Regions from separate parts of the Homo sapiens genome. Here region 1 is linked to region 2. The links come from fine-mapping of genetic effects on gene expression. A gene starts in region 2. The other region holds a variant in brackets. All regions are shown on one strand. Distances are between the middles of the regions.

Evidence for each region.
Region 1: its variant is fine-mapped to the expression of OPLAH in monocytes (TOPMed, PIP 0.98).

What each region holds. Positions count from the first base shown.
Region 1 is chr8:143,961,609-143,976,608 of GRCh38, reverse strand. It overlaps a transcript of PLEC not described here. Among named protein-coding and RNA genes, the nearest start is that of PARP10, 17 kb to the left of the region's middle. RefSeq lists silencers at 1-236, 1,550-1,619, 1,640-1,689, 2,726-2,855, 2,866-3,325 and enhancers at 3,059-3,906, 3,907-4,756, 9,482-10,258, 10,259-11,036, 11,037-11,814. The variant T/C (reference allele first, on the strand shown) is at 7,234.
Region 2 is chr8:144,053,298-144,068,297 of GRCh38, reverse strand. It overlaps OPLAH (5-oxoprolinase, ATP-hydrolysing), which reads left to right and starts at 7,606. Exons shown (of 27, transcript NM_017570.5): 1 at 7,606-7,645; 2 at 8,213-8,436; 3 at 8,508-8,699; 4 at 9,219-9,318; 5 at 9,402-9,525; 6 at 9,607-9,802; 7 at 9,894-10,059; 8 at 10,150-10,288; 9 at 10,375-10,442; 10 at 10,585-10,850; 11 at 10,978-11,090; 12 at 11,180-11,350; 13 at 11,543-11,680; 14 at 11,775-11,913; 6 more. The coding sequence starts at 8,266. MIR6846 (microRNA 6846) reads left to right here and starts at 10,918; the gene lies at 10,918-10,977. It also overlaps a transcript of EXOSC4 not described here. RefSeq lists an enhancer at 6,878-7,398 and a silencer at 7,190-7,799.

The sequences.
Region 1 (15,000 bases), 92 kb after region 2:
AACTAGGGGCTGCGCCGCGCCCCCTCCTGCCCTCGCTCGAGAGGACAGCACCTCCCTGCACGCCCGAGACTGCGGAACTGGACGGGCGGTGCCCGGGGTGTGGGCAGGAAAGGCCGCTGGGGAGGCGCGGCTGACCGCAGGGCTCCGGGCGGGGGGCTGCAACCGGGGCGGCCCGTGGAGAAGCCAGTGGGGGCGGGGCGCGGCGGCCCCCTCCTCGGTGTCCGCTGCCTCCTCCTTAGCCCTTGGCCTGAGGGCGGAGGCACAGAGCCCACATTGTGCCCCCGCGCCAGCCCACCCCCTCCGAGACAGAGCCCCATTCACCTCCCGCACGCCAGTGCTCTTGGGGACGGGGGCTGGGGAGTGTGCGCGCGTGGGTATGCGTGCGTCCTGGTTGCGTCCGCGGTGCCGGTGTACGCGCCCCCACTGTGGGCCGCTGGAGCTGCGGCCCGGGCTCCCTCCCGGCCTCGCTGCAGCAGAGCTCCCGCGGCCCACGCCGCTGCGGCTGCAGCTATTTATAGGCCTTCGCTGCGGAGATCGAGGTGGGACTGCGGGCTGAGGTGGGGTGGCGTGATGGGGAGTCCTAGAGGTCGAGAGAGCTTGGAGGTGGACTGCCGGTGTCCAGGGGAAGGGCTTGGGTGTCCTTCCCTGATGACCCGGTGAGTGGAGGGGGCGGTGGTCAGCTTTCCTTGATGGCCTCGCCTGCCTGCGATTAGAGGGTTAGAGGCGGGTCCAGTTTGGGATGGAGGCAGTGGAGGCCGGCATCTGAGTGAAGGTAGTCACCCCTTCCCCTTCCATTTGACAGAGTGGAAGGTGGTCTGTCGTGTGCCGGTTGAGCCCCTGGGTGACAGAGTAGGTGGGTGGGGTGTGGGTGACTAAGAGAGGAGAGTGGCAGTCAGTGTGTGGGAGTGGGGGTGGCCAGGGTGGTCAGTGTCCTGGTGATGGACTGGAGGGTAAGGCCAGTGGCTGGGGGGTCACTGTGTAGGTATCTGAGGAGTGCGCGGGAGGGGGCAAGGCAGTCATGGATGGAGAGAGGGTAAGTCAGTGCCTGGGGCCAGAGCATGGGGGTCAATATGTGGGTACAGCAGAGTGCAGGAGGGGTGTGGGTGCCAGTGTCCAGGCGAGAGGCTGGGTGGGGAGAGTTCAGTGTCTAGGTTAAGAAGGTGGTGGGTGGGTCGGCGTGCAGAGTCCACTCCTGAACAGGCAGAGATGTGACCCCTCCTGCTCCCCTTCCAGGAGGCCATGTCGGGTGAGGACGCTGAGGTCCGGGCAGTCTCTGAAGATGTCTCCAATGGAAGCAGTGGCTCGCCCAGCCCTGGGGACACACTGCCCTGGAACCTTGGGAAAACGCAGCGGAGCCGGCGCAGCGGGGGTGGCGCTGGGAGCAACGGGAGTGTCCTGGACCCAGCTGAGCGGGCGGTCATTCGCATCGCAGGTAACTGCGCAGGGCCTTGCCTGTGCACCTCCTTGGCACGCGAGGTTGACTGAGTTCCCGCTGCGTGCTAGGCGCTGGAGCGGGGACTGGGTGGGGGAGGCCTAGGGGGATCTGCGGGTCACGGAGGGCCTCGCGCGTCCCAGGTGAGTGCAGGCGGCACAGCGCCACCTGCCGGCCGCGCCCAGGCGGTTCATGAGGCCTGGGGTTGGGCTTCTTGCCGCGGCGTCCATCCTTGATTTTAACACGGTCCAGTGCCCAGATGCAACAAGGATAATTTTTTGGGTTCCCCACCAGGCCCTCGGTCTTGGCTGCCACAATGGCGGCCAGGTGGGAATGTACAGGAGCAGTGTATAGGGAGGGGGTACCTGGTTGTCTGGAGCCCCAGCCTCTTCCTGAGCCAGGATCTGGCCTTGCTTTCCAGTAGCTCCCCATCCAGGGAGAACGATGGGAAGCATCCAGCGAGATGCTTGGGGAAGGGGGAGGGCAGGAGGGAAGTGGGTGACCTAGAGCTGTGCTAGGAGAGGGAGGAGCAGTAGCTCTCTAGGCTTTGGCTTGAGAGTCCTGACCTGTTCCAGCCGGAGGGCAGGGAGGCCCCTGCGGGAGGCCAGGAGAGGGCTGCAAGGCCAGGTGCTGAGCCCTGGGGGGATGTTGCAGACGACGGGAAGCGGGGCTGGTAGGAGCAGGAAAGAGGGAAGGAGAGGGTCACTGCTGTGCACCCAGCTCCAGCCCCAGGGTCTGGTTCCATCTGCATGACCTTCAGGGCTTTTCACAGCACACACGGACTTTAAAGAAAGAAGTCACTTTCTTCCCACTTGAAAGGGAATCACTTGTGTCGTTCCCACGCCTGGGCTTTCTTCAGCATCACCTTTACAGTTGTGGAGGAGTGTGGGGGGTCCCGAGGCCCCGGCTGACCGTGGTTGCCTTCGGTACTCACTGCAAAGGCTTTGCCCCCAGCCAGCACCTTCCGCGCCGGGGCTCTGCGTCCTCTGACGGTTTCCTTAGGACCGATTCCTGGAAGCGGGACTTGCAGTTACAGGACATATGGCATTAAGCTTGGAGAAAACACGGCCAGGGGCATCCCAGACAGGGTGGCCGACATTGGTGAAGGCGGGGAGAGCGGGGGCTTTGCCAATCTGATGGGTGGAAAGAGTTGTTTTAATTATCACCAAGCATTTTTTCCTTCTGTGAATGGGCTATTCCAGTCCTCGTATGTGTACTTAATTTTTCTTGTGTGTAGTGTTTTAAGGGTTCTTTATACCGACTCAGTCGTCTCCAATGTTGCAATGGGAAAGTTCTCAGCTGCACGCAGGAAGCAAGGTGGGGGGCGGGCAGGGGAGCGTCTCGGAGGCAGGTCGCCGGCCCGGCGGGGAACAGACAGGTCGCGGCCGCCCCTGGGCGGGGGCCACCCGAGGACCCCCGGGCGACCGCGGTGTCGGCGGCCGCGACCCGGGCGAGAACGGGAAAGGGCGTGCGTGCGGGACTCGGAGCCCGCGGAACCGGCCCGCCGGGAGGGGCCCAGACGCGGCTCCCTCTGCCCGGCCGCGGCGGCCCCGGCCCCGCCCCGCCCGTGGGGCATCCTGGGTGCGGGGGCGGGGCGGGGGCGGGGCGGGGGCGGCCTCTTTAAGCGGCGCGCGCGGCCGCGGGGACAGAGTGGCCGCCGGGTGCTGGAGGCTCCGCTGCACCCCGCGCCCCGCGCCCGCCGGCATGGCCGGCCCGCTGCCCGACGAGCAGGACTTCATCCAGGCCTACGAGGAGGTGCGCGAGAAGTACAAAGGTACGGCCCCCCGTCCCGCTGCCTGTCGGGCCGCTCCTGACAGCCCAGCCGCCGAGCACCTTGTCGTCCACGGTGGCGGTCCCGATCGCCGGCCCGAGCGCGGCCACTCCGCCGGCCTCGTCCGCCTGGATCGCCCCCAACGGCTGCCAGTGCCTAGGGAAGGGGAGGACTCGCTCCGCTGAGCCCCCGAGGCCATGCCCTTAATAGGGCATCGCGCGGCTCGGGTGGGTGGGGTGGGCCGCGGGCGGGTGGGGGCGCTCAGGGCTTGTCGGGGTCGGCTGTCTGAGCCAGGATCCGGTGTCTGTGGCCAGCAGACACATGGGTCAAGGCTGAGCCATCCCCTGCCCCACCTCTGGGGCGCGTCTGCATGGAACAGGGGCAGCTCCGCCGCCTGGCAATGGGTCACATAGTTGCCGCCTCTCCTCACCTCCCTAAACTGGCGAGGGCCTGGGCTGCCACCCTTCCTTGGCAGGGCACCCCCCCCACACCCCTTCTCTGTTCACTAGGGGACAGCTGTGGGCTAGGGGTCAGGGTGGCCCCTCCTTCCTCTCTAGGGGAGCATCAGAGTGGCCTGCCCACCTGCTTGATGCCTCGGCAGACCCCCTTGCCCTAGTCCACGCCCACGGGGAGCCCCTGGACCCTCCCAGGTCCTGGTCCCACCGGCCATTCTTGCAGCCCAGCTGCCTGGCTCAGCCTGGGTCGCCCGGCTCCAGGCGGTTGTGGACACAGCATTGGCTGCCGGCCTGCAGAGGCTTAGGAGCAAGGGACTGAGCTGCTGGGGAGGGTCGCGGTGGGGGCCCCCAGGCAGAGCCGATCAGAGCAGACTCCAGCTCCACGTGGCTGGTTTTGCTGGCTCTGCCCCCAAGGGCAGCTCAGGGAGAGAGGTCCTGCTGGGGCCCCGTGGTGCCGCTCTCCACCACAACCTTGCCCAGCTGGGTAGGTTTCATGGTGCCCCGAACTCATCTCCTTCAGGCGTCCTCCAGCGACGGCTCTGGGGCAGGGTGGATGTACTGCTGTGGCTCTCTTTGACAGTGCTGTGCCCAGCCGCTTTGCCTGTGTGACTAGTTCATTCGGGCCAGGGGAGACACTCCTGCACCCTTGGGGAGGCCTGGAGCGGGCAGCCTGTTGCTCATGCTCTACATGGCCGGCCCTGCCTTAGAGGGAGCACCCGGAGGGGTGCTGGGGTATAGGGCAGGGAAGCAGCCGCCCACCTGGGCTCCAGCCCTCCTGGCAAGCCCCAGGACAGAGCTGTTTCTGAGCTGACCACTCTGTTCAAAGTGCGGGAACTGTGCAGGATCGTTTCCTCCTGGAGTTCTTCATCTGGTCAGGTTGCTGGGCTGCCTGGGGTGCCCCAGCCTGTTCTGGGCATTGTGCTGAGGCTTTCCTGGCCCCAGGGCTGTCTTTCCTCTACCTCCTGGGGTGGGAACTACTTCTGATTCATCCAGGGGTGAGCCAGACAGATCCCTGGAGGTTGCTGGGACCCTCTGTCAGGGTCCTCCCTCCCAAGCGCAGCTCCTCTGGAGGCCAGGATTGGTGTTGGGCACACTCGCAGTCTTGGCCCATTGTCTGCCTTCTGGGCTTGGTGGTGGAGGCTGGTGAGGGGGCAGGGGGGCCGGGGGGCTTGCCTGAAGTGGAGTTGTCACGTGATGGTGCAGCTGCCCGCATGTGTGTGGCACTGGCCTGAGAGTGGCTAAACAGCAAGGCAGGTGCTGAGGCTCCGTGAGCACACCAGGTACCCCAAGTCTCCTTAGCTCCTGGCTTGAGACAAGGGGACGGGAGGGGCTGGGCTGGTACCTGTGTCTGGGAGCCACGGACCAAGGCTGAGGAGGGCCTGCAGGAGGTCAGAGGTGGCCCCTGTGCCCTACACCTTTCCAGGCCTGACCTCTGTGAGCCCCTTGGACCTGCTAGAGGGCTGGAGCCCCGGCCCTTCCTGTCCCTGGGGTGGAGGGACTGTGGGAGGGCATGGCACCCCTTGCCAGCCAGCCAGTGACGGCAAGGCAGCCCCAAATCCCTCCATGGTAAGCAGCTGCGGGCCCCTGTCCTGGGCCCAGCTCAGCATTTGGTGGTTCTGAGGAGGGCAGGGAGGCCAGGCCTGTGCCCCCTGCCCAGCTGATCCCTGCACTGAGGAGGTGCTCTGGCTTAGGCCTCCTGGCCTCCTCCCCTCTGTGGCATTGCCTCGGTTCCACCTCACTGTGCCCTCTCACAGACAACTCCCTGTCTGACCCTCACTCCGGTGACCTTCACCCCCCACCCCACAACGTCTCAGACCCTCCCCTGGACACGTCATTCCCTGGCTCTCCCCTGGAAATCCCCGGTCTTCCCTGTACAGTCAGGCGGCCACTGCTCCGCTTGGAACATCGCCAACTTCCTGTCTGCCTGAGCCCCTCAGCCCCCCCATTCTCCCTGTCCCCCATCCAGGGCAGATTCCTCTGGGGCTGAGGCTACTGCAGCCTGTGGCGGGAGAGCTCTGGGCACCCTGTGGGAGAGGCCTCCGTGCTGAGGGCTGTGGGCTGGTGACTTAGACAGTCGGCCCAGCTGCCAAGAGGTGTCCAGTCGCCCAGCGCCCCAAGCCTGGCCTGTGACAGCTCATAGAGGCTGGGCCGTTCTGCCGCACCATGGGAGCCTGGAGAGAGACCTGGGGTGGGTGTGGCAGGGCGGGGACAGTTCTAGGAGAGAGTTGTGGCAATGCAGGTGAGTGGAGGTGAGGCGGCCAGTCCATAACTGAAAAGAGAGCGGTGTTGCCAGGGGCTGGGTGAGAAAATATCCTGGAATTGACAGCTACACAACTCCGAATCTACTGAAACCACTGAATTGGACGCTTTGAATGGGTGAATGGTGTGGCATGTGAATTACCTCTCAATAAAGCTATTAAAAAATACTAATAATCAGCATGAGGTCAACCTAATTGGTACTGACATGAAAAGCCAGTGGCTCCAGAGGAAATCTCAGTCTGAGCTCCCTGTAAAGGGGCGGCCAAATCCGTGTGCTCTCTCCCGCCCTCTCTCATGCACAGCGATCGCCCCAGCCGGGAGCCTGAACCCAGAGGTGTGACTCTCCCCGTTTTTCTTTGTATACTTCCACCCTGCTTGATTTTTTTTTTTTTTGGAGCGTTTTACTTTTGACAGTAAACACCGACCAAAATTCCTCTCCAGTGAGCCCCAAATAACCTCCAGCCTGCCCTCTGCCAGCTGAGCACCAACCACTGCAGATGACGCCCTACGCCATCACCCACTCACCCGTGCAAACACCCTGCAGTGCTGGCTGAGGGCCTGGGGCCAGTGCCAGGGACACAGATAACCAAGCTCAGAGTCCAGGACAGGGGAGAGTAGGGGACACATGAGGAGGGGGCCAGGCACAGTGGCACTGGGCAGGCCCAGGGCTGGCAAGGGGTCCTGAAGAGAGTGCAGGCCACAGGCTGGGCACACGCCCTGTGGAGACCCAACACACCCAGCCCCTCTCCAGGCCCGCTTTTCCCCCAGACCAATGCAGGCCTCCCACCCCTGGCCCCTGCCCCACACCAACGCCACCCACTCACCAACGGTACTCACCCCGGCCTCATTCTCACCCCTGCTGCCCTCTCCAGGACCACCTCACAGCACCCCTAAGCCCCACTCCCATCCCTAACATGACAACCTAAAGTCTCTATCCCCAGCTGCCCAGGCCCCCGGCTGGCCCCACTCCCCACTCCCCGGCCTGCACTCATGCCCTGACCCCCAGGACAGGCCCCTGCCCACAACGCTGGACTGCTGCTGGGCCGCTCTTTCTTTCTTCACTGACCGCCTCACCTCCACTCACCTGCATTGCCACAACTCTCTCCTAGAACTGTCCCCGCCCTGCCACACCCACCCCAGGTCTCTCTCCAGGCTCCCATGGTGTGGCAGGACGGCCCAGCCTCTATGAGCTGTCACAGGCCAGGCTTGGGGGGCTGGGCGACTGGACACCTCTTGGCAGCTGGGCCGACTGTCTAAGTCACCAGCCCACAGCCCTCAGCACGGAGGCCTCTCCCATAGGGTGCCCAGAGCTCTCC[T/C]GCCACAGGCTGCAGTAGCCTCAGCCCCAGAGGAATCTGCCCTGGATGGGGGACAGGGAGAATGGGGGGGCTGAGGGGCTCAGGCAGACAGGAATGGTTATGGATTGGCCTGTACTGGCCCTGGGTCTGGCCTCTTCGACTTGCCGGGACGCTGTCAGGGCTGCTCACATCGCCGCGCCATCAGCACCTCACCCTCCCCCCGCTGGAGTCGGTTCCGTGGTGTGGAAGTGCCCACTTTTGCTTATGCGTTTATCAGTTGACGGATAGTGGGTTGTTTCCACCTTTTGGCTGTTATGAGTGAGGCTGCTATGGACGTTTGCATACACGTTTTTGTGTGGTCGTATGTTTTTTATTTCTGCTGGGTAGATACCTAGGAGTGGAATTGCTCAGCTGTGTGGTAATTCTATATTTAACCATTTTGAAGAACTGCCAGATTGCTTCCTAAAGCGGGCGTGCCATTCTGCATGCCCAGTAACAGCCGGGTGCGAGGTTTCCAATTTCCTCACATCCTCACCAACACTTGTTATTATCTGACTCTTTGATTGCAGACATCCAATCCTAGTGGGTGTCGAGTGGAATCTCATTGTGGTTTGATTTGCATTTCCTGATGGCTAATGACGTTGAACACTTTGGTGTGATTGTTGGCCATTTTTTATATCTTTTGAGAAATGTGTATTTCAATCCTTTGTCCATTTTAGAATTTACCTTTTGGTATTTTTGAGTTGTAAGTGTTCTTTATATATTCTAGATGCCAGTCCTTTATCAGAAATATGATTTGCAAACATTTTCTGTTTCTGTGGTCTGCCTTTTTATTTGCTTGCTGGTGTCTTTTTTTTTTTTTTTTTTGAGATGGAGTTTTGCTCTGTCACCCAGGCTGGAGCAGGTTCAAGTGACTCTTGTACCTCAGGCTCCCGAGTAGCTGGGACTACAGGCGTCTGCCACCACACCTGGCTAATTTTTGTATTTTTAGTAGAGATGGGGCTTCGCCATATTGGCCAGGCTGGTCTCAAACTCCTGGCCTCAGCCTCCACAGTGCTGGGATTACAGCGTGAGCCACCTCACCTGGCCGGTGGTGTCCTTTGAAGCACGTACATTTTAATTTTAATTATTATGACTCCAGTTTATCTATCTTTTTCCTTGGTTGCTTGTGCTTTTGGTGCCATATTTAAGAAGCCATTGTCTAATCCAAGTCATGAAGCTTTACACCAATGTTTTCTTTTCTTCCTTTTTTTTTTTTTGAGACGAAGTCTCGCTCTGTCTCGCTCTGTCACCCAGGCTGGAGTGCAGTGGCATGATCTCAGCTCATTGCAACCTCTGCCTCCTGGGTTCAAGCAATTCTCCTGCCTCTGTCCGCCGAGTAGCTGGGATTACATGTGTGCGCCACCACACCTGGCTAATTTTTGTATTTTTAGTAGAGATAGGGTTTCCCCATGTTGGCCAGGCTGGTCTTGAACTCCTGACCTCAAGTAAGCCACCTGCCTCAGCCTCAGTGCTGGGGTTACAGGTGTGAGCCACCGCGCCTGGCCTGAATTCTTTGATTATTAATTAAGCTGAGCACATCTCCTAGAGTTGTTGACTATTTGCACCTTTTCTTTTGTGAACTGCCTATTCACAAGCATTGTTGGCCAGGCTGGTCTTAAACTCCTGTGCTCACATGGAAATGGAATCAAGGGATCCTCCTGCCTTGGCCTCCCAAAGTACTGGGATTACAGGTGTGAGCTGCTGCCATGCCTGGCTACTACACCTTTTTACATCAGGGACTTGAGCATCTGTGGATTCTGGTATCCATGGGGAGTCCAGAACCCATCTCCCGCTGATACCGAGGGACACTTGTATTCGGCGTAAACTTCGAAGTTGCCTGTGGGCAGCACCAGCTCACGGAACAGAACTTTTCAGCTCCTGGAAAGTTCCTGCTGAGTCCCCACTGGGCACACCATGGATGGGTCTCACACCACGCATCTATTTTTGTTTAATTCTGTCTGTTTCTTTTTTTTTTTTTTTTTTTTTTTTTTTGAGATGGAGTCTCGCTCTGTTGCCCAGGCTGGAATGCAGTGGCGCGATCTCGGCTCACTGCAACCTCCGCCTCCCGGGTTCAAGCCATTCTCCTGCCTCAGGCTCCCGAGTAGCTGGGACTACAGGCGCCCGCCACCATGCCCAGCTAATTTTTTGTATTTTTAGTAGAGACGGGGTTTCACCGTGTTAGCCAGGACAGTCTCGATCTCCTGACCTCGTGATCTGCCCACCTCGGCCTCCCAAAGTGCTGGGATTACAGGCGTGAGCCACCGCGCCTGGCCTAATTCTGTCTGTGGTTTCTTTAGCCATATCAATTTTTAACACTCACCAGTCTTTTATGATTTCTGGATTTTATGCTATGCTTAAAATGGCCTTCTTTTAGAAAAACATCTGCTGAGAGTTGCTTCCAGCACTGCTGCATTTTTTTAAACATCTCTGTCGTTAATCTTTGTGGAATTTGCTTGGGGCTGAGGTCGAGATGTTCAAGGAGGCTCGATGTCATGCTTGGTGTCACGCTCATAGGGTCTGGCCGTGGGCTTGTGGGTTACAGGGATGATTGTAAACATCTCCCCTTCCACCAATCCGGCTTCCTGACGCAGGGGCTGTGTATTGCTTCACTTCTGTGCCCCCGAGCCGAGCCCTGCCCTGTCCTGTGGCAGAATCCAGCTTCCTGACGCGGGGACTATGTGTTGCTTCACTTTTGTACCCCCCCAGCCGAGCCCCGCCCTGTCCTGTGGCAGGTGTGGCTTGAAACAAGCGTTGGGTGGGAGGGATAGGTGGACTTGGAGCTGGCTGGACCCCTGCAAGATCCTGGCCTGGTGCCTCCCAAGGAGCGGCTGAGGAGTCCCCCGTGGTGGCTGTGGAGGTAGAGAGCAGCCTGGGGTGGAGAGGATGTGCCTGCGGCAGAGAGGGCGGAAGAGCCAGCGCTTAGCCTTGGGTGCATAAAATCAGAGATGCCTGTGAGATAGGTATGCGTGTGCAGACACTGAGGTGCAGGAAATGCTGGGCTGAGGTGGGGAGGCCAGGCTGGGAGGCCATCACTAGGGCAGGCCTCGGGCCAGAGCTCTGAGCCTGGGGTCCTCCAGAGCTTAGGTGCCTATGAGAAGAGGCAGCCGGGAAGCAGAGCAGTGGGCAGCTGTGCAGCCATGGGGGCCTGTTGGGTCTGCGAAGGAGGAAGGGGCGTGAGGAAGCAGGGCCACGTTGGGAGCAGGGTGAGGCCTGGATGGTGCTGGGACCAGGTGATGAGGGGTGTTGGGACCTCAGCGGGACTGCTTGGGGTGTCGTCGGATTGGAGGTGCCAGGGGGCATGTGGGAAGTGCTCAGGAGGCCCTGCTGGTGCCAGGCTATGGTGGGTCCAGCAGGGTGGCAGGGAGGGAGAACCCTCTCCAGGACAGAGCGGTGACATGGAGGCTAGGCCGCAGCAGGTCACAGCCTCAGCTGGATGCTGGCCCGAGTTCCCTGGGGAAGGAGTTCCCTGGGCCTTGGCCTGAGGGACCTGCATGGTCACAGGGGGCATGGGCATCACCTGGCCCAGGGTGAGTACTGAGTGGTCGCTCACATTTACCCAGCCACACATCATCAGTGGCCAGTCCAGACTGCTGCTCACCACTGAGGGCCCTGGAGATTTTCCCAGGGTTGGGCTGTTGGGAGGGTGTGGGCAGTGGTGCCCTGTGGCCTCAGTTTCCCCAGTGAGGCCCAAGAGGAGCTGGCAGCAGAGGGGCCAGGGGCCAGGTACCTCAAGAAGGGACTGGAGGAGGCTGGGAAGGGCGATGCTAGTGGGACCAGGTGCCCAGATCTCCCACCGCTGGGGTCATGGGTGATGCCCACAGACCCACAGTGGGTAGGGAGATGCGGGGCTGGGAGAGCAGGGGCCGTGGGTCATGAGGTCAGGGACCCAAAATGGGGCATGGGCCGGGTCATCTGTAGGCCCAGTGGAAGGGGAGTTGGGAACACGCGTTCAGACGGTGGAAGGAGGGTGCCAGCTGGGAAGACAGGATCCTGTAGGACTTGGGACATCAGCCTGTGGGGCCTGCTCTCCAGGATTTGGGTCCTGGTTAGCTGCAGAAGAGTCCTCCCAGCTGGTGGTCAGCTCTTGGCAGGACTGTTGCTGCTTCTTCCTGGAGGCAGAGGAGACCCAGGACCAGGAATGGGATGGGGATCACTTTGTGTCCCTGTGTGGCTCCAGGAGTAGCGGCAGACCCAGGGCCAGTGCTGCAGGAAAGGAAGGCCCCAGGACGGCATCAGGGTGGCTGGTGTGAGTCTGGGTGCTCTTGGGCAGGCTGGTGTGTCAGGTGGGCTGGGGCCAAGTGGGACGGTGAGGGTGGGGAAGGCCATCCACAGGGGCACACCAGGGTGGGCGGGGGGGTGGGGGTTGGTTGGGGGAGTGGGGCTGGTCAGGGCTGGAAGTGTGGGTCTGCAGGAGCAGAAGGAGGTAGCTGCAGTAAAGGTCTCTGGTTGTGGCTTTTATGATTTTTATTCTGCTCTGTTTTTCAAATGAATGTGTCTTTTGACCTTTTGAAAGTGCATCTCTTTCTCTTCTTTCTTGCTAAACGAGTGGCTACCTGGGAAGCTAACAGAGCAGGCACAGGATAGGCCTAAGAGACACAGCTGGACGCCACTGTCATGACTGCCACAAGAATGCATGGTTGTTTACAGAATACAGATACCCCCAGAGAATGTGCCCTGTTTTAGGTTCCTGTGGCTGCTGTCACACGTACCCACAAACTGGGTGGCCTTAAACAACAGAAATGTATTCTCTTACGGTTCTGGAGGCCACATGTCCAAAATCAAGATGTTGACAGGGCCACGCTCCTTCGGAGGCTCCAGGGCGGACTCTGTTCCTGGCCTCTCCAGCTCCTGGTGGCCATCGGTGCCTGGGCTCGTGGCCGCATCACTCCAGTGTCGGCCTCCATCCTCCCGTGGCCCTCTCCCCTGTGGCTTCTCTTCCATCTCTTGTAAGACACTTGGCATTGGTTCTAGGCCCCCTACTGGGTAATCTAGGATGATCTCATCTCAAGATCCTTGTGTTAATTACACCTGCAAAGACCCTTTTTCCAAATAAGATACCAATTATGGGTTCCAGGGAATTGTTCATAGACATATCTTTTGGGGACCTCCATTCAACCCACTACAGTCTGTCCTCTGGTCCCTCAAAACTTACATCTGCCCCACTTCCAAAATAAATGTTTCTTATGCCAACATGCCCCAAAGTCTCAACCTATTGTAGCATCAGCTCTAAGTCTAAAATTCCATCCGCTTAGCCAGGCACAGTGGCTCACGCCTGTAATCCCAGCACTTTGGGAGGCCTGTGGGTGGATCACCTGAGATCAGGAGACCAGCCTGGCCAACATGGTGAAGCCTTGTCTCTACTAAAAATACAAAAATCAGCCAGTCATGGTAGTACACACCAATAATCCCAGCTACTCAGGTGTATGAGGCACGAGACTTGCTTGAACCCGAGAGGCAGAGGTTTCAGTGGGCCGAGACTGCACCAATGCACTCCAGCCTGGGTGACAGAGCAAGACTCCATCTCAAAAAAAAAAAAAAAAAAAAATTAGCCAGGTGTGGTGGCACATGGCTGTAGTCCCAGCTGCTCAGGAGGTGGAGGTAGGAGGATTGCTTAACCCTGGAGGCTGAACCCAGGTGACAGAATGAGACCCCATCTTGAAAAAAACAAGAACAACATTTAATCAGCTCAGAAGTCCCAAATCTGATCATCGAAGTTGTGTCTAAATCAGGTGTTGGTGAGGCTCTGGGTAGGATCCAGATGGGGGCAAAATTTTTCTCCATCTTTTTACTTGTAAAACTAGAAAGCAAGTTTTATGCCTCCAAACTGCAATGTTGGGCTAGGCATAGACTAGACATCACCATTCCCAAAGGGAGAAATATAAAGGAATAAAGGGGTTGCCAGTCCCAAGCAAGTCTGAAATCCAGCAGGGCAAATTCCGTGGGGTTTCAAGGCCCGTGAATGCTCTTCTGTGGCTCAGTGCCCCACCCTCTGCACCTGCACCTCTGCCAGCCTCTGCCTCTAGGCCTAAGGCCCTGACCTTGGAGTCATTCTTCCTTTTTCTCAAAGGGTAGCACATGTTTGCAGCTGCCTGGGTCTGTCATCCTGTTTCTTGCCTGTAGACTCTCAGAAGCCCAATACCTTCCTTCATTTCATCCTGTCTCTGTTCCCATCAATCCAAGCAGGCAGTGTTTCTGCTGGTAAAACATTCTCATAAACCTTCTGGGTCTCCCCTGTATGTCACAGGGAGCCAGGCCATTAGAGAGAAGGGTTCACTCGGATCCTCCCTGGATAATCTTGTCTCTATTCCTGGCTTCTGTTGAGATGAGTGAATGGACCCATGAGTCACATACCTCATCTCTGCAGAGATGGCTTTCTCTGCAGAACACACTTTCCTAACAGTGAACCTCCCAACATGAGCATCTTTTGCAATCTAAATAGGCTGCAGATATCCCAAATCACCCATGCTGTTTCCTTTTTGCTTAATAGTTCCTTCCTCAATTTATCTCTTTCTTCCTGTACTTTACCATAAGCAGCAAGAAGCAGCCAAGCCACACCTTCCACACTTTGCTTGGAAATCTTTTCAGCTAAATATCCAAGTTCATTGCTTACAAGTTCTGTTGAGCACCCGACAGTGAACACAGTTCGGCGAAGTTTCGCTTCAATGTGAGAAGCACCTTTCCTCCACTTTCCTCGTTGCCTTCTAAGGCTTCACCACAAGCACCTTTAATACCCATATTTCTACCAACCGTCTGGTCAGACAGGCTAGGCTTTTTCTACTGTGTGCCTCAAGATGTCCCAGCTTCTGTTTATTACCCAATTGCAAAGCCACATCCACATTTTCAGATATTCGTCACAGAGGCACCCTGCTCCTGCTCGCTGTCTGTATTGATTTCCTTTGATTCCCACAGGGAAGAGCCACAGGCAGGGCGCCCTAAAACAATAGAAATTTATCTTTTGATTGTTCCGGAGGCCAGAAGTTAAAAATCCGGTGTCGGCAGGTCCACGCTTTCTCCGAAGGCACCCGGGAAGAGCCTAGGAATAGCCGCCTGCCTCTTCCAACTCCACTGCCCCTTGGCTTGTGGCTGCATCATGCCAATCCCTGCCTCTGTGTCTCTCCTCGTCTAAGGACACTTGCTTTTGGATCTAGGGCCCATCCAGGTAATCCAAGATGATCTCATCTCAAGATCCTTTATTTAATTATATCTGCAGAGACCCTGTTTACAAATAAGGCCACATTTATGAGCTCCAGGGACATGGACATAGATTTTTTTGTGGCCACCATTGGACCTACCCAGCCATCCTGCAGTAGTTGGTTAATGTAGAACTTACACATTTTTGTTCCATAGTCATTGTTTTAAAAAGCGTGCACAGTGGGCTGGGCACGTGATTACAGGTGGCACATGCCTGTAATCCCAGCACTTTGGGAGCCTGAGGTGGGAGGATCTCTTGAGCCCAGAATGTCAACACTGCAGTGAACCTGGGCTACAAGAGCAAGACCCTGTCTCAAAAAGAATAAAAAAATAAAAAAGCATGCACAGTGTTCTTTAGTGTGTGTTAATTTATCTGTAATTTCATGATTTAATGTTATGAAGTATTTTAGACATAAGTAACTTCTTTTACTTAGTGATACAGCTTGGGCATCTCTCTGTGACATTAATTTACAATACAGCATTCCCCTGTATGGAAACCATATCATATTTAACCAATCAATCCTTTCTCCTAGGACACGGAGTTTAATTTTGGAT
Region 2 (15,000 bases):
GTCAGAAGTCAAAAACAGACACTTCATGGGAGGGGCAAGGGGAACAGGAATTTATGCTGAAGGGAGTGGCCAAATATACATATTCAATGAGCTATAAGAGGAGTCATGAATATTTATGAAAGGGGAGCACACAAACGCACAATTTAGCTTCATGCCTCCCCATGGGACTCATGTTCAAAAAATGGTGGCATTATCGTGATCTGAGGGTGGGGTTTTCAGGCTTCCAGCGTCAAATGGTGCAGCAGAGGACACAAAACCCCTCCCTGTGCTTCCTCCATAGCCGTAGAGCCACTCCGTGGCCAGTGGTCTCTATCAGGAAGGAATGCAGGCTGGCAGGTTGTTTCGGCAGGTTGAACCTCCGCCTCTTGGGTTCAAGCGATTCTCCGGCCTCAGCCTCCCAAGTAGCTGGGATTACAGGCATCTGCCACCATGCCCGGCTAATTTATGTATTTAGTAGAGATGGGGTTTCACCATGTTAGTCAGGCTGGTCTCGAACTCCTGACCTCAGGTGATCCATCCGCCTCAGCCTCCCAAAGTGCCAGGATGACAGGCGTGTGCCACTGTGCCCGGCCAACACATTTTCTATCTTTGTTCATCTTGAACTGTCTTTATTTCACCTTCATTTTCAAAAGTGGTTTTCCTAAATATCGGATTCTTGCTTGACAGTGTTTTTCTGACTTTGAGTCTTCTGGTCTCCACTGCTTCTTCTGAGGAGTCAGGTGTTCATCTTATTTGGGGTTCTCTTATATGTGATGAATCATTTTTTTATCTTGTTAACTTTCAAAGCTTTCTCTTTGTCTTTGCTTTCCAGTATTTTTACCATGATATGTCAACTCCTGGAAGCTGCCCACATTCCTTGCTCTGAGACTCCCCCAGCAGTGGAGACTCTCCCCTGTGTGGAATCTCTTTCATGCTTTGAGTTCTTTCCACTGGAAAGAGACCCATCCTTTGGAAGGATCACGTGATTAGGTTAGGCTCACCCAAAACCATCTCCTTTATCCCCCAGCAGTGTCAAAAAACATAACCTAATCATGGGAGTAAAGTCCATCTTATTCACAGTCCTGGGGATTATGCACGGCATGTACAGCAGGAAATCCTGGAAGCCTTCTGAGAATTCTGCCTATCACGCTTTACCCTCTGGCTTTCGGAGTGTGTGAGTTGAAAGTTGACTGACTGAGCCTCTCATTCTTTTTTTTGTTTTTTTGTTTTTGAGACAGAGTCTCACTCTTGTTGCCCAGGCTGGTGTGCAATGGTGTGATCTCGGCTCTCCACAACCTCTGCCTCCCAGGTTCAAGCGATTCTTCTGCCTCAGCCTCCCGAGTAGCTGGGATTACAGGCATGCACCACCACGCCTGGCTAATTTTGTATTTTTAATAGAGACGGGGTTTCTTCACGTTGGTCCGGCTGGCCTCAAACTCCCGACCTCAGGTGATCCGCCCGCCTCGGCTTCCCAAAGTGCTGGGATTACAGGCATGAGCCACCTCGCCTGGCCGAGCCTCATTCTTTTGGGGTAAAATCTCTCCAACTATCAGAAATACTCTACTCCAGGCCAGGCTTGGTGGCTCATACTTGTAATCCCTAATCCCAGCACTTTGGGAGGCCAAGGTGGGTGGATCACCTGAGGTCAGGAGTTTGAAAACAGCCTGGCCAACAGGGTGAAACCCTGTCTCTACTAAAAATACAAAAAAATTAGCCAGGCATGGTGGCACACACCTGTAGTCCCAGCTACTTGGGAGGCTGAGGCAGGAGAATTGCTTGAACCCAGGAGTCGGAGGTTGCAGTGAGCCGAGATGGTGCCATTGCACTCCAGCCTGGGTGACAGAGTGAGACTCTGTCTCAAAAAAAAAAAAAAAAAAAAAAAGAGAAAAACTCTACTTTGGCCAGGTGTGGTGGCTCACACCTGTAATCCCAGCACTTTGGGAGAACAAGGCAGGAGGCCAGGAGTTTAAGGCCAGCCTGGGCAACATAGTGAGACCCCGGGCCAGGTGCAGTGGCTCACGCCTGTAATCCCAGCATTTTGGGAGGCCAAGGCGGAGGGATCACGAGGTCAGGAGATAGAGACCATCCTGGCTAACACGGTGAAACCCTGTCTCTACTAAAAATACAAAAAAAAATCAGCCAGGTGTGGTGGCGGGCACCTGTAGTCCCAGCTACTCGGGAGGCTGAGGCAGGAGAATGGCCTGAATCCGGGAGGCAGAGCTTGCAGTGAGCTGAGATCACGCCACTGCACTCCAGCCTGGGTGACAGCAAGATTCCATCTCAAAAAACAAAACAAAACATAGCGAGACCCTGTTTCTACCAAAAAAAAAAAACAAAAAAACTAGCCAGGCATGGTGGTGCATGCATCTGTGGTCCCAGCTACTTGGGAGGCTGAGGTAGGAGGATCCCTTGAGCCTGGGAGGTCAAGGCTTCGATGAGCTATGATTGCACCACTGCACTCCAGCCTGGGTGACAGAGTGAGACCCCATCTCAAAAAAAAAAAAAAGTAAATAAAATAAAATAAAAAAATAAAAATACTCTACTCCATTTTCTTCCTAATTATAGGAATTATTTTATTGTAGTTGAGACAGAGTCTTATTCTGTTGCCCAGGCTGGAGTGCAGTGGCACGATCTCAGCTCACTGCAACCTCTGCCTCCCAGGTTCAAGTGATTCTCCAGCCTCAGCCTCCTGAGTAGCTGAGATTACAGGTGCCTGCCATCGCGGCCAGCTAATTTTTGTATTTTTTTTTTTAGTAGAGATGGGGTTTCACCATGTTGGCCAGGTTGGTCTCGAACTCCTGACCTCAGGTGATCTGCCCGCCTCAACCTCCCAAAGTGCTGGGATTACAGGTGTGAGCCCCTGCACCCGGCCGAGAATTAAATTGTCACAATTTCTGTTGGGATTCAGTACAGTTGCCCCCAGTCTCCTGGAGCACTAGTCTCAGGGGCACTGCCCCCACTCGCACAGGTGAGGGGCCCTGCGATGGCTCCACTCGAGTAGCCAGGGAAAGGAGTTTGAGAATCCCAGGACAGTCTACAAATCAGCAAGTGGAAACTAGACCATCAAACAAGCAAAAGAGAAAAATGATGTAAAATACATAATAATCATAATGTAAGAAAAAGCCAGAAAACCAAAGTAACTGTGCAGAAGTGTCCCTTTAAAGACAGATTGGAGGCTGGGCGCGGTGGCTCACGCCTGTAATCCCAGCACTTTGGGAGGCTGAGGTGGGCAGATCACGAGGTCAGGAAATTGAGACCATCCTGGCTAACACAGTGAAACCCCGACTCTACTAAAAAAAATACAAAAAAATTAGCCAGGCGTGGTTGCGGGCACTTGTAGTCCCAGCTACTTGGCAGGCTGACGCAGGAGAATGGCGTGAACCTGGGAGGCGGAGCTTGCAGTGAGCCCAGATGGCGCCACTGCACTCCAGCCTGGGCGACAGAGCAAGACTCCATCTCAAAAAAAAAAAAAAAAAAAGACAGATTGGATAGAAGAAGAAAGTCCTTTATGTGATCTAAAATGCAAACCACTGTCACCACTGAGGGTGAGGGTGGCTCTCCTGTCCCTGGGGAGGTGTGTCTTTAGGTCCTGGTCCTCAGCCTCTGGTGGGCCGCCTGGCCCATCCCCTTCCTTGAGGTTATGGCCCAGATGTGGTGCCTCTTCCAGGGCACCTGCCTGCTCGCTGCAACCTCCATGTGACAATGCCAAGGCCCTGTGCCCCCAGAAACAGGCCCAGCCTCCCTTGTGGTGGCTCTAGCACTGCCTGGTGCATCCCTTGGCCTGCAGCCCCCTCCCATGCTGTCCTAGCGTGCTCTCGGCTGGCTCTGCCCCTGTAGCCCTGGCCTGCCCTGGTTGCTGCTGTCCAGCTCCTGCTGTTGCTGGGCCCCATCCTGCAGGGCAGCCACGCACCCACCCTTCCTGATCCCTTCAGAAGCTGTGCCAACCGTGACTGCCGACATACCACACCTGGTTGCCTAAAACTATGTCCTGGCATGGCCAGGCCTGGAGGCTGTGGCTGGTGGCCAGTGGGCTGTCAGACGGGTGGGTGCGGAAGCCTGCATCCCATATCCCTTCCCCCACGACACACCTGGGCTTGGCCGGGTCAAAGAAGCTTCCATCTTCTAGGAGGAGGATTCCTGGAGTGAGCCAGAGACCTGGGACAGTTCTGGGCACCCACTGGCCATTTGGCCCTCAGGGGGCTGGAGGTCAGAGGTCAGGCCACCTCTGCCACGGGGTGGTTGGAACAGCTGGGTCCTGACCCTGAAGGCCCGGAATGCGGCTGAGGCGAGGGGGCAGGGGCAGCTGCTGACCTCACAATAGCAGGGTCTGCTGTCCCTGGCCGGCCTGCTGGCCCCCGCCAGCTGCCGCCGCTGGCTGCCAGGCATGTCCCTCCTCAGCAGCTATGAGGGCCTGCGGCAGGAGATCCAGCGGCTGGCACAGGAGAACGAAGAGCTGCGGCGGCTGGTGCAGCTCATCCAGGAGAACCAGGAGCTGAAGCTGGTGCTCAGGAACCGCGGCAGCAGCCTGGGCTTCTGCAGCTCCGGGTTCCTGGCTGAGGTGGCTGCCAGTCCCTGGCTACCCAGGCGGAGAACGATCAAATTCAAGAATGCTGAGAGAGGTGAGCCGTACCGGGGCCCCAAGACTCTGTGGAGTTGGGCAAACCCGCTGGGTGCTGCGGTGCCTCTGGAGCAAAGCCAGGGCCCTGGGGCTCTTCCAGGATGTGCGGCGGGGAGAAGGTGCCAGGTCTGGGAAAGTGACCTCTGAGCAGAGCCTGAGCGGGCGAGGGAGCTGCCAGGCTGGGGCGCGGCTTTCCAGGCCCAGGGAACAGCCTGTGCCAGGCCCTGAGGTGGGTGCAAGTTGTCTGTGCCTGAAGCTGTCAGAGTCACTGCAACGGCAGACTCTGTCCTCCCAGCCCTGCGCTCTCTGGTGGTGGGGACAGCCATATCCCTGGGGGAACGTGATGGAAGCCTGGCCGGGGTGGAGGTGTGAGAAGTAGCAGCTCTGTGTTCTGAAGGTGAAAGTAACAGGACTTCTGGCAGATTGCGTGTGGGGATGAGAATGGGGCTGGGGCAGCTCGCTGGGTGGGGGAGCCGCTGCTGGAGTGGGCCACTGGTAGGTGGCCTGGGGCTTGGTTTTGGGACGTGTCTGGCCATGCAGTCAGAGGCGCCACTAGAGAGTAGGGGCCGGGCCATCCCGCAGGCCTGGAGCTGCCTCTGGTTGCTGTGGAGGGGCTGCGTGGCATTGCCAAGGGGAAGCTGGGACCCAGCAACATGGAGGGACAGAGATAAAGGCCCAGTGGGGTAGGAGGCAGGTGGGGCAGCCAAGGGAGGCCTGAGCCTGGGTGGGTGGGGGTTGGCTTTTGTTGGTCTGCCCCCGAGACGCGCAGTGGAGTGGGGTCAGGAGAGCCCAGGAGGCAGGCGGAGGTGGGGGAGGTGGACACCTGGAGGTGCACGGCAGTGGGATGCCGCTAGGGAGCGTGGGGACAGGCCCTTAGAGGTTTCGTCTGTGAGTGGATAGCACAGGCCCCTGGAGTGAACAGAGAGGCGAGGGGGTGGCTGGGGATGGTGGAGGGCAGTGAGAGAGTTTGGGGTCTACAGCACAGGCCTGGCGGGCAGCCTGAGTGCGTACAGGGCAGCAGATGGTGGGGGTGTGGGTGGGTGGGGTGTGGGAATCTCTCCTGATAGATCCTGGGCTGACAGGCAGGACCAAGAGGCTGTGCTGGGGATGGGTGGAAACCAGAAGGCAGGGCAGTCCCGCAGGAGTGTGGGCTGGCCAGGCAGAGGCTGTATGGCTGGTGGGGAAGGTCCTCGGCTGAAGTGGGGTTGCTGACCAGAGCTGCTTCCCACGGACTGCTCAGAGCAGGCAGGTGGGGCTCCTGCATGTGGGCGTGGCATGATCATCTGGGGCCTCAGCTGGGCCTCAGGATGGGAAGGCACTAGGAGGTCCATGGGCATGGGGTCTGGGGGTGGCATCACAGCAGGCACGTGCCACTTACAGGGCAGTCATCTGGACATGAGCAGCAGCCCATCCATGGGGAGGGGTTCCTAAGTGCCTGATCCTGGGCCCCATCCCTGTCTATGGGGAGCTGGAGTCCACTGCCCTTGGCACAAATGTTACAGGAAAGGGGTCCCAATCCAGACCCCAAGAGAGGGTTCTTGGATTTCTTGAAAGAAAGAATTCAGGGCGAGTGCCTAAAGTGAAAGCACGTTTATTAAGAAAGTAGAGGAATAAAGAATGGTTACCCCATAGACAGAGCACCCCGAGGGCTGCTGGTTGCCCATTTTTTTTTTTTTTTTTTTGAGACGGAGTCTCACTCTGTCGCCAGGCTGGAGTGCAGTGGTGCGATCTCATCTCACTGCAAGCTCCGCCTCCTGGGTTCAAGCGATTCTCCTGCCTCAGCCTCCCAAGTAGCTGGGACTACAAGTGCGTGCCACCACGCCCAGCTAATTTTTGTATTTTTAGTAGAGACAGATTTTACCATGTTGGCCAGGATGGTCTTGATCTCTTGACCTCATGATCCACACGCCTCGGTCTCCCAAAGTGCTGGGATTACAGGCGTGAGCCACCGTGCCAGGCCGGTTGCCCATTTTTATGGTTATTTCTGATGATATGCTAAACGAGGGGTGGATTATTAATGCCTCCCCTTTCTAGACCATATAGGGTAACTTCGTGCCGTTGCTGTGGCCCTGGTAAACCGCCATGGCGCTGCGGGGAGTGTAGGACGATGGTTTTGGTAGGTTTGGCCAACTTCTTTACTGCAACCTGTTTTATCAGATACAGGGTTTTTTTTTTTCTTTTTTTTGAGACGGAGTCTCGCTCTGTCGCCTGGGCTGGAGTGCAGTGACACGATCTCTGCTCACTGCAGCCTCCGCCTCCCGGGTTCCAGCGATTCTCCTGCCTCAGCCTCCCGGTAGCTGAGATTACAGGCGCGTGCCACATGCCTGACTAATTTTTGTATTTTTAGTAGCGAGGGGGTTTCAACCGTGTTGGCCGGGCTGGGAGATACAGGTTTTTATGACCTGTGTGTTGTGCTGACCTCCTATCTCATCCTGTGACTTAGAATGCATTAATCGTCCGGGAGTGCAGCCCAGTAGGTTTCGGCCTCTTTTTAGCCAGCTCCTATTCAAGATGGAGTTGCTCTGGTTCACACGCCTCTGGCACAAGGAGGGCTGGAGATGAGGGAGACCCGGTGAAGAAGGCCAGAGATACCGCACAGGAGAGGCCCACGGGGCCGGGAGCTGGGGCTGGTAGAGAAGGCCGCAGGGCCTCCCCTCTCCTCTCTGTCCTTCAACGCCCCCTCCACGGGGAAGGACGTCCGCCAGTGGGAAGCCCTGTTGTGGCCTGGGCTGCCAGCTCCCCTTGCCCAGGACACCTGGAGGTGGGATCCTGGGGCGCCCACGCTAGGCGAGCCCAGGCCCGGCGCCGGAGACCCGAGGGCCGCAGAGCCAAGGTGCCCTTGATCCTGCGCCCGTGGCCCGGGGAAGCGCAGGGCGAGGACGGAGGCGCGGGGGGCGGGCCCGGCCTGATGTAACCGCGAGTGCCGGGACCAGTGGCGCGGGGGGCGGGCCCTGTAGGCTCCTCCCCGAGGCGAGGCTGGTGCGGGCAGGGCCGCCGGGAGCGCAGGCAGAGCCGACCGCGAGCGACCGAGCCGGAGCCGAGCGCCAGGTGGGGCCTGCGCCGGGCGGCCTCCCCTCCGCGGCCCTTCCCCGCTGCCTCCCGGGCTTCCCCTCCGCGGCCCCTTCCCCGCTGCCTCCCGGGCCGCTCCTCACGCGTCCCCGCCTCGGGTCGCCCCGTCGGTGCTCAGGCTCCGTCCTGTCCCGGGGCCCGCCAGGCTTGGGTCGAAGGTCGAGCAAAGCGGGAAGTGGGGTCCCCCGGCCAGCTCGCCCCAAACCCCCTCCCCGCACTCCCGTGCCTCTTTCGTGCTGAGGGACCCCGCCCGAGGGCTCCAGGGTCCAGCGGCGTCCCCACCTCCCGTGCCTGCTCCGCTGCCTGGGTTTCGGCCCAGTCCAGGGCCCGGAGAAGCGCGATGCTGGGCATGGGGGCATCAGGCCGCTGACCGCCGGCCAGGCTCTCGCTCGGGCCCAGGCTGCCCTCGGAGCTGGGCCTGCGGCTCTGGCTCTTCCCAGAGTCGTGCCCGTGGGTCTCTCCCTCAGGAACCCCCCGCATGCGCAGGGCTGGGGAGCCTCTAGTCCCACTCGCAGGTGAGCCCGGGCTGACCCCGCCTCCGTCCAGTTTTTCCAGGGCTACCAGCTGAAGAGCTCCTGTGGGACTCCAGCCCCACCACCATGGGCAGCCCCGAGGGCCGCTTCCACTTTGCCATCGACCGTGGGGGTACCTTCACAGACGTCTTTGCCCAGTGCCCAGGGGGGCACGTGCGGGTCTTAAAACTGCTCTCAGAGGACCCTGCCAACTATGCGGACGCGCCAACCGAAGGCATCCGCCGCATCCTGGAGCAGGTGGGCCAGGGCGGAGCGGGTGGACAGGGACCCCACGGCCAGAAGCCCCACACTGACCACGTGGTCCCCAGGAGGCCGGCATGCTCCTGCCCCGGGACCAGCCGCTGGACTCCAGTCATATCGCCAGCATCCGCATGGGCACCACAGTGGCCACCAACGCACTGCTGGAGCGGAAGGGGGAGCGGGTGGCGCTGCTGGTGACACGTGGCTTCCGAGACCTGCTGCACATTGGCACCCAAGCCCGTGGGGACCTCTTTGACCTGGTGAGCTCCATGTTGGCTGGGGACCAGGCTGTGTGGTGTACACCCCCCAGGGATGCCTTGACCCTGTGGGGAGAGCAGTTGTTGGATTAGTGATGGCTCATGGGCACCAGCCGACAAAGAGGAAGCTCCCGAATTCCCAGTGGGACCCCAAGTTCTCCTAGCCCTCGGAGTGGGCACAGGATGCCCTGTTCCTGCCTGCCGCCATGCCCACCCTGGATGCTGGTGTGGGGCCACCCAAGCTACCCTGTTCAGGCAGAGGAGGGGTGGAACCCCGCACCTACTGCTGCGTTTCCGGAAGAAGCTGCCTTCGTGGGGGTGGAGCAGTTGGCTGCACTCAGCTGCCTAGGGGGTGGAGAGCTGCCCCCTTGGTGAGCCTTGCTGGGGCTGCCAGGTATGACTCTCCTGGGCCTGCCGACCGGCCTGTTGGGACACAGCCACTCACCTGTACCACCCACTCACACAGGACCCCGGCCTGGACCCTCAGGCCTGGGCCTCTTCTGAGTCTCTGCCCGCCCCCAGGCCGTGCCCATGCCTGAGGTGCTGTATGAAGAGGTGCTGGAGGTGGACGAACGCGTGGTGCTGCACCGTGGAGAGGCGGGCACCGGGACGCCTGTGAAAGGTGTGTGTGCCGCCGCTGCTGTGGGATTTGGGGCCGGAGGGTCCTGCTGGCCTTTAACGGGGCCTCCTGGGCTTTTCTGGAAGGCCGCACGGGGGACCTGCTGGAAGTGCAGCAGCCTGTGGACCTGGGGGCCCTGCGTGGGAAGCTGGAGGGGCTGCTATCTCGAGGCATCCGCAGCCTGGCTGTGGTGCTCATGCACTCGTACACGTGAGTGAGGTGGGGCTGTGGGCTGCGGGAGCAGGTGCCGGGCCTGGTGGGAGACGAGGTGCCACTGGGTTTTTGTCATAGGTGGGCCCAGCATGAGCAGCAGGTGGGTGTGCTGGCCCGGGAGCTGGGCTTCACGCACGTGTCACTGTCCTCGGAGGCCATGCCCATGGTGCGCATCGTCCCTCGGGGGCACACGGCCTGTGCCGACGCCTACCTCACGCCCGCCATCCAGCGCTACGTGCAGGGCTTCTGCCGTGGCTTCCAGGGCCAACTCAAGGTGAGGCTGTGAGGCACCCCCACTGCCCACTCCTGGGCCTGGGCCTGGGCCTTGGCCTGCCCCTCATGGCCCGCCTGCTGCCCGCTCGCAGGATGTGCAGGTGTTGTTCATGCGCTCCGATGGCGGCCTGGCGCCCATGGACACCTTCAGCGGCTCCAGTGCTGTGCTCTCGGGCCCGGCCGGCGGCGTGGTGGGCTACTCAGCCACCACCTACCAGCAGGAGGGTGGCCAGCCTGTCATCGGCTTTGACATGGGAGGTATGAGGGCCGAGGGCTGGGGTCTCGGGGAGGCTCAGCTGCTGGGCCCCTGGGTCTTCAAGTGACCCACCAGCACCCCACCCCTGCCAGGCACGTCCACGGATGTGAGCCGCTATGCTGGGGAATTCGAGCACGTCTTCGAGGCCAGCACAGCTGGCGTCACCCTCCAGGCCCCGCAGCTGGACATCAACACCGTGGCAGCGGGAGGGGGTTCCCGCCTCTTCTTCAGGTCAGCTCTCCTGCTTCCCAGGCTGGGACCCCAGCCCTGTCTCCCTCCTCGTGTCCAACTCCAACCCCAGCCCTTCCTTCCCCTAGGTCTGGCCTCTTTGTGGTTGGGCCCGAGTCAGCAGGAGCCCACCCAGGACCCGCCTGCTACCGCAAAGGTAAGAGTCAGGATCTGGCCGGCCTGGCCTTGCCCTCCGCTTGCCGCCGCAGGCCCAGCCCCTCCTGTCAGCCCTATCCCTGCTGCCTACTCCTGCTCCCCTGCCTCCAGCCCCCAAGCCCCACACCCTGTCCACCTCCCAGGGGGCCCTGTGACAGTGACGGATGCTAATCTGGTCCTGGGTCGCCTGCTGCCTGCCTCCTTCCCCTGCATTTTTGGGCCGGGAGAGAACCAACCACTTTCCCCTGAGGCCTCCCGCAAAGCCCTGGAGGCTGTGGCCACTGAGGTCAACAGCTTCCTGACCAACGGGCCCTGCCCGGCCTCCCCGCTGAGCCTGGAGGAGGTGGCCATGGGGTTCGTGCGCGTGGCCAACGAGGCCATGTGCCGGCCCATCCGTGCACTCACGCAGGTACGTCCACCTCTGCTCTCCCGCCTGTCCTGCCCCCAGCCCTGCTCCCTGCCCCAGGCCTCCTGCTCAGGCTGGGGGCTGGATGGGGTAGAGTAGGAGAGCCCACTGACCCCTTCTGTCTCCCTAGGCAAGAGGCCATGACCCCTCAGCCCATGTGCTGGCCTGCTTTGGGGGAGCTGGTGGGCAGCATGCATGTGCCATCGCCCGGGCCCTGGGCATGGACACGGTGCACATCCACAGGTGGGCCTGGGTGTGGGTGCACGGAGGTGGTGTGATCTGCGCCGGGCTTGGGAGGTGACCTCCCATTGCCATGCTGCCCATCCCTGCAGGCACAGTGGGCTGCTGTCGGCCCTGGGGCTGGCCCTGGCTGACGTGGTGCATGAGGCACAGGAACCCTGCTCCCTGCTCTACGCGCCTGAGACCTTCGTGCAGCTGGACCAGAGGCTGAGCCGCCTGGAGGAGCAGTGTGTGGATGCTCTGCAGGCCCAGGGCTTCCCCAGGTGGGCTCCCAGGGTGCCCTGGACAGAGGGCTTACGTTGTCCTCACCACGCCCTTGGTGGGTGTTCCTCCTGATGACTTCCCAGGTGGTCCCGGGGTGTGCGAGAAGCAGAACAGGTGTCCTTGCCGGGCGCTGGGTGGGGTGGGGTCAGGGCAGGGGGTTTGGTGTGAGTGCCCCCAACCACCTGCTGCAGGTCCCAGATCAGCACTGAGAGCTTCCTGCACCTGCGCTACCAGGGCACGGACTGTGCTCTGATGGTGTCTGCCCACCAGCACCCAGCCACAGCCCGCTCGCCCCGTGCGGGGGACTTCGGGGCAGCCTTTGTGGAGCGGTACGTGGCTTCCTGACTCCGGATCCCTGGCAAGGGGCCCTCCTGTCTGGCCGCCTCACTCTGACCACTCCTTGGGTCCCCGCGGGGAGTGCAGGTACATGAGGGAGTTTGGCTTTGTCATACCTGAGCGGCCGGTGGTCGTGGACGATGTGCGAGTGCGGGGCACCGGCCGCAGTGGTCTTCGCCTCGAGGATGCCCCCAAAGCCCAGACCGGGCCTCCCCGGGTGGACAAGGTTGGTGGTCCTGCCTGTGCCAGCCTGACAGCACCCATGGGGCACCGGGATGGGGACCAAGCCCTGTGAGAGGCATCGGGGAGGGTGCTGGGCCCGGGCGCTGTACTCACCCGCACCCTCTGCAGATGACCCAGTGCTACTTTGAGGGGGGCTACCAGGAGACCCCTGTGTACCTGCTGGCAGAGCTGGGCTATGGGCACAAGCTCCATGGGCCCTGCCTCATCATCGACAGTAACAGGTGGGCTGAAGTCCGGCCAGGGTGGAGGATGTGGACGGGTCCACTGCGGGGCCCCTGGTGCAGGGTTCTCTGGCCCAAGGCTGCAGGGGCCTGCAGGACTCTGTATCCCACCATCGTTGGGGTGGCCCCTGGCCTGGGGCCGTGGCATCTCTGGTTGGAGGGGTGTCGCCTGGCCCCATGCAGCCCTCTGTGCCCTCTGCTCCCCAGCACCATCCTGGTGGAGCCAGGTTGCCAGGCAGAGGTGACCAAGACAGGGGACATCTGCATCTCCGTGGGGGCCGAAGTCCCCGGCACAGTGGGCCCCCAGCTGGACCCTATCCAGCTGTCCATCTTCTCACACCGCTTCATGAGCATTGCTGGTGAGTGGCCGCTGCCAGGCTCCCTGTGGGATGAGGCGCCGGCTGTGTCATGGGGTAGCTGGCAGGGCTGTGCCCAAAGGGAGAGGCAGAAGCAGGACCCCCTGGCGACGGGGCGGGCAGTGTGGCCGCAGCACTGGTGTGGTGCAGTTGGCCATGAGAACAAACCTTGGGCAGGGAGGACACCTTCCCCCCTTACCTGCAGCCATGTGATCCAGAGAGTGCCCTCCTAGCTAAGGAAGGGATACTGAGGACAGCACAGGGAACCCATCTGTGCAGGGTCAGGCCAGCGGCTTGCTGGGAGCCCAGAGGTCAAGAGCCTAGGAACCAGGTTCTTGCTGTGCCAGGCAGGGTGGGAGGGTCGAGGGGTGGCACTGGGTTCTTGCTGGGGGCTCCAGGCAGGGCTGGGGAAGGTGGTGTCCTTTACATAGGCTAAGACGTGGCCAAGTGGGCACACCGTCAACTTGGTCTTCCCCAGGAAAAAGCTGCTGGGTTTTTCCTGGGTCCTGGGTTTGAGTCCTGGTGGGTCCTGTTCCTCCCTTTCCTGGGGCCAGGCTGTGGGTGGGTGGGGCCAGCGGGCCTGGTCACTTTGTGCTCCTAGAGCAGATGGGCCGCATCCTGCAGCGCACAGCCATCTCCACCAACATCAAGGAGCGTCTGGACTTCTCCTGTGCCCTCTTTGGGCCCGATGGGGGGCTGGTGTCCAATGCCCCCCACATCCCTGTGCACCTGGGTGCCATGCAGGAGACGGTGCAGTTCCAGGTGGCCCTTCCCCCGCCTCACCCTTCCATCCCCCTCCCTCACCCTCCACCCCCCCCCCACCCCGCTCTGGCCCCTGCTCCCCTGTGCCCACTCTGCACCCATCTCCTGGTTTCAGATTCAGCACCTGGGGGCCGATCTCCACCCTGGCGACGTGCTACTGAGCAACCATCCCAGTGCCGGGGGCAGCCACCTGCCAGACCTGACTGTTATCACACCGGTGAGGGGTGCTGCCCGCCTGCCTCTGCTGGGGCAGTGGTGGCCGATGCAGCTGACCGTGGCTCTCCACCCGCTAGGTGTTTTGGCCGGGTCAGACGCGGCCTGTGTTCTATGTGGCCAGCCGAGGGCACCACGCAGACATCGGGGGCATCACACCAGGCTCCATGCCCCCCCACTCCACCATGCTGCAACAGGAGGGTGCCGTCTTTCTGTCCTTCAAACTTGTCCAGGGGGGCGTCTTCCAGGAGGAGGGTGAGTGGGAGTGGGGTGGGGCAGGCCTTCTGTAGGCTGGGACACATGGCCACTGCTGGCAAGCAGGCCTGGCTGGACCGTGGGATGCAGCCCATAGGCCCAGGCCTGCCTTGAGGCTGGGAGGAGATAGGTGGTTACCCCAAAGGGCAGCTGCAGATCGGATCCCGGGAGCTGAGATGAATTCAGCCTGGGCCCAGGAAGGCCTCCCGAGGGGTGGTTTTGCGGGTGGAGAGTTAGCCAAGACGTGGAGGGTCAGGGTGCTGGAGAGAGAAGCCTGTTTCAAGGTGGGTGGCTGCTTGTGGTGTGTGCAGTCATACTGGGTGGGGTCCGCAGAGAAACAGCAGGGCAGGGGCAGGGCCCAAAGGCCCCTGTAGAGTTTTCTGGGCCTAGGTCTGAGTCACTGGGTGGTGGGTGGCCGTGAAGGGCTTTCAGCTGGGCCTGCGCTGAGCTCCCACTGTGCCCACGTGCAGAGAGGATTCGGGGTCTTGAGAGTGGCCTGGAGGCTGGGGGGCAAGGTGGGGGGAAGCTGCAGTTGCCCTGGATGATGCTGATGTCTTGGGCTGAGTGGAGAGCGAGGGCGGGGGGTGGGGGACAGTTTTAGAGGTGGAGGTGGGTATTTGGAGGGATTTGGGAGAGGGGGCCAGGGGTCAAGTTTGGGCAGCTGGAGGTGGAGGGCCTGGCACTGAGCAGCTGCAGGGAAGGGGGGATGGAGGCTGCAGGGGTGCCTGTGGTGGGGGTGGGGGTAGGAGAGACAGGGAAAAACAGCCCTGGTCTGAGGCTGCAGGTCTGGGAGCCCAGGGGAAGTGGCGTGGCCAGGGTGGAGGGTGGTGGCAGAGGGTGGGTGTAATGGAACCACAGGCTGTTCTGGGTGTTGAGGACACAGATAGGGTGGCCCATTGCTGGCTGCTCCCTTGGTCAATGTGAGCTGGGGCAGGGGTTGTGGACCACAGAGGGACATGCACAGGCACACTGCAGAGGGCCTTGTGGCTGCCTCAGAGGGGACCCTGAGCCAGGCTCAAGGAGAGGGGCTTTCCTGAGGTGCTGAGCAGTCCCAGGCCAGGCCTCGGTGCTTTCTAGGGGCCAGAGACCTTGTCTGGATCTGGGAAACCTGGGTTGGGGGTGCAGACAGGGTTGGCCAGGGGCTCAGTGATGACACTGTCCATCCAGCGGTGACGGAGGCCCTGCGGGCGCCAGGCAAGGTCCCCAACTGCAGCGGAACCAGAAACCTGCACGACAACCTGTCGGACCTCCGTGCCCAGGTGG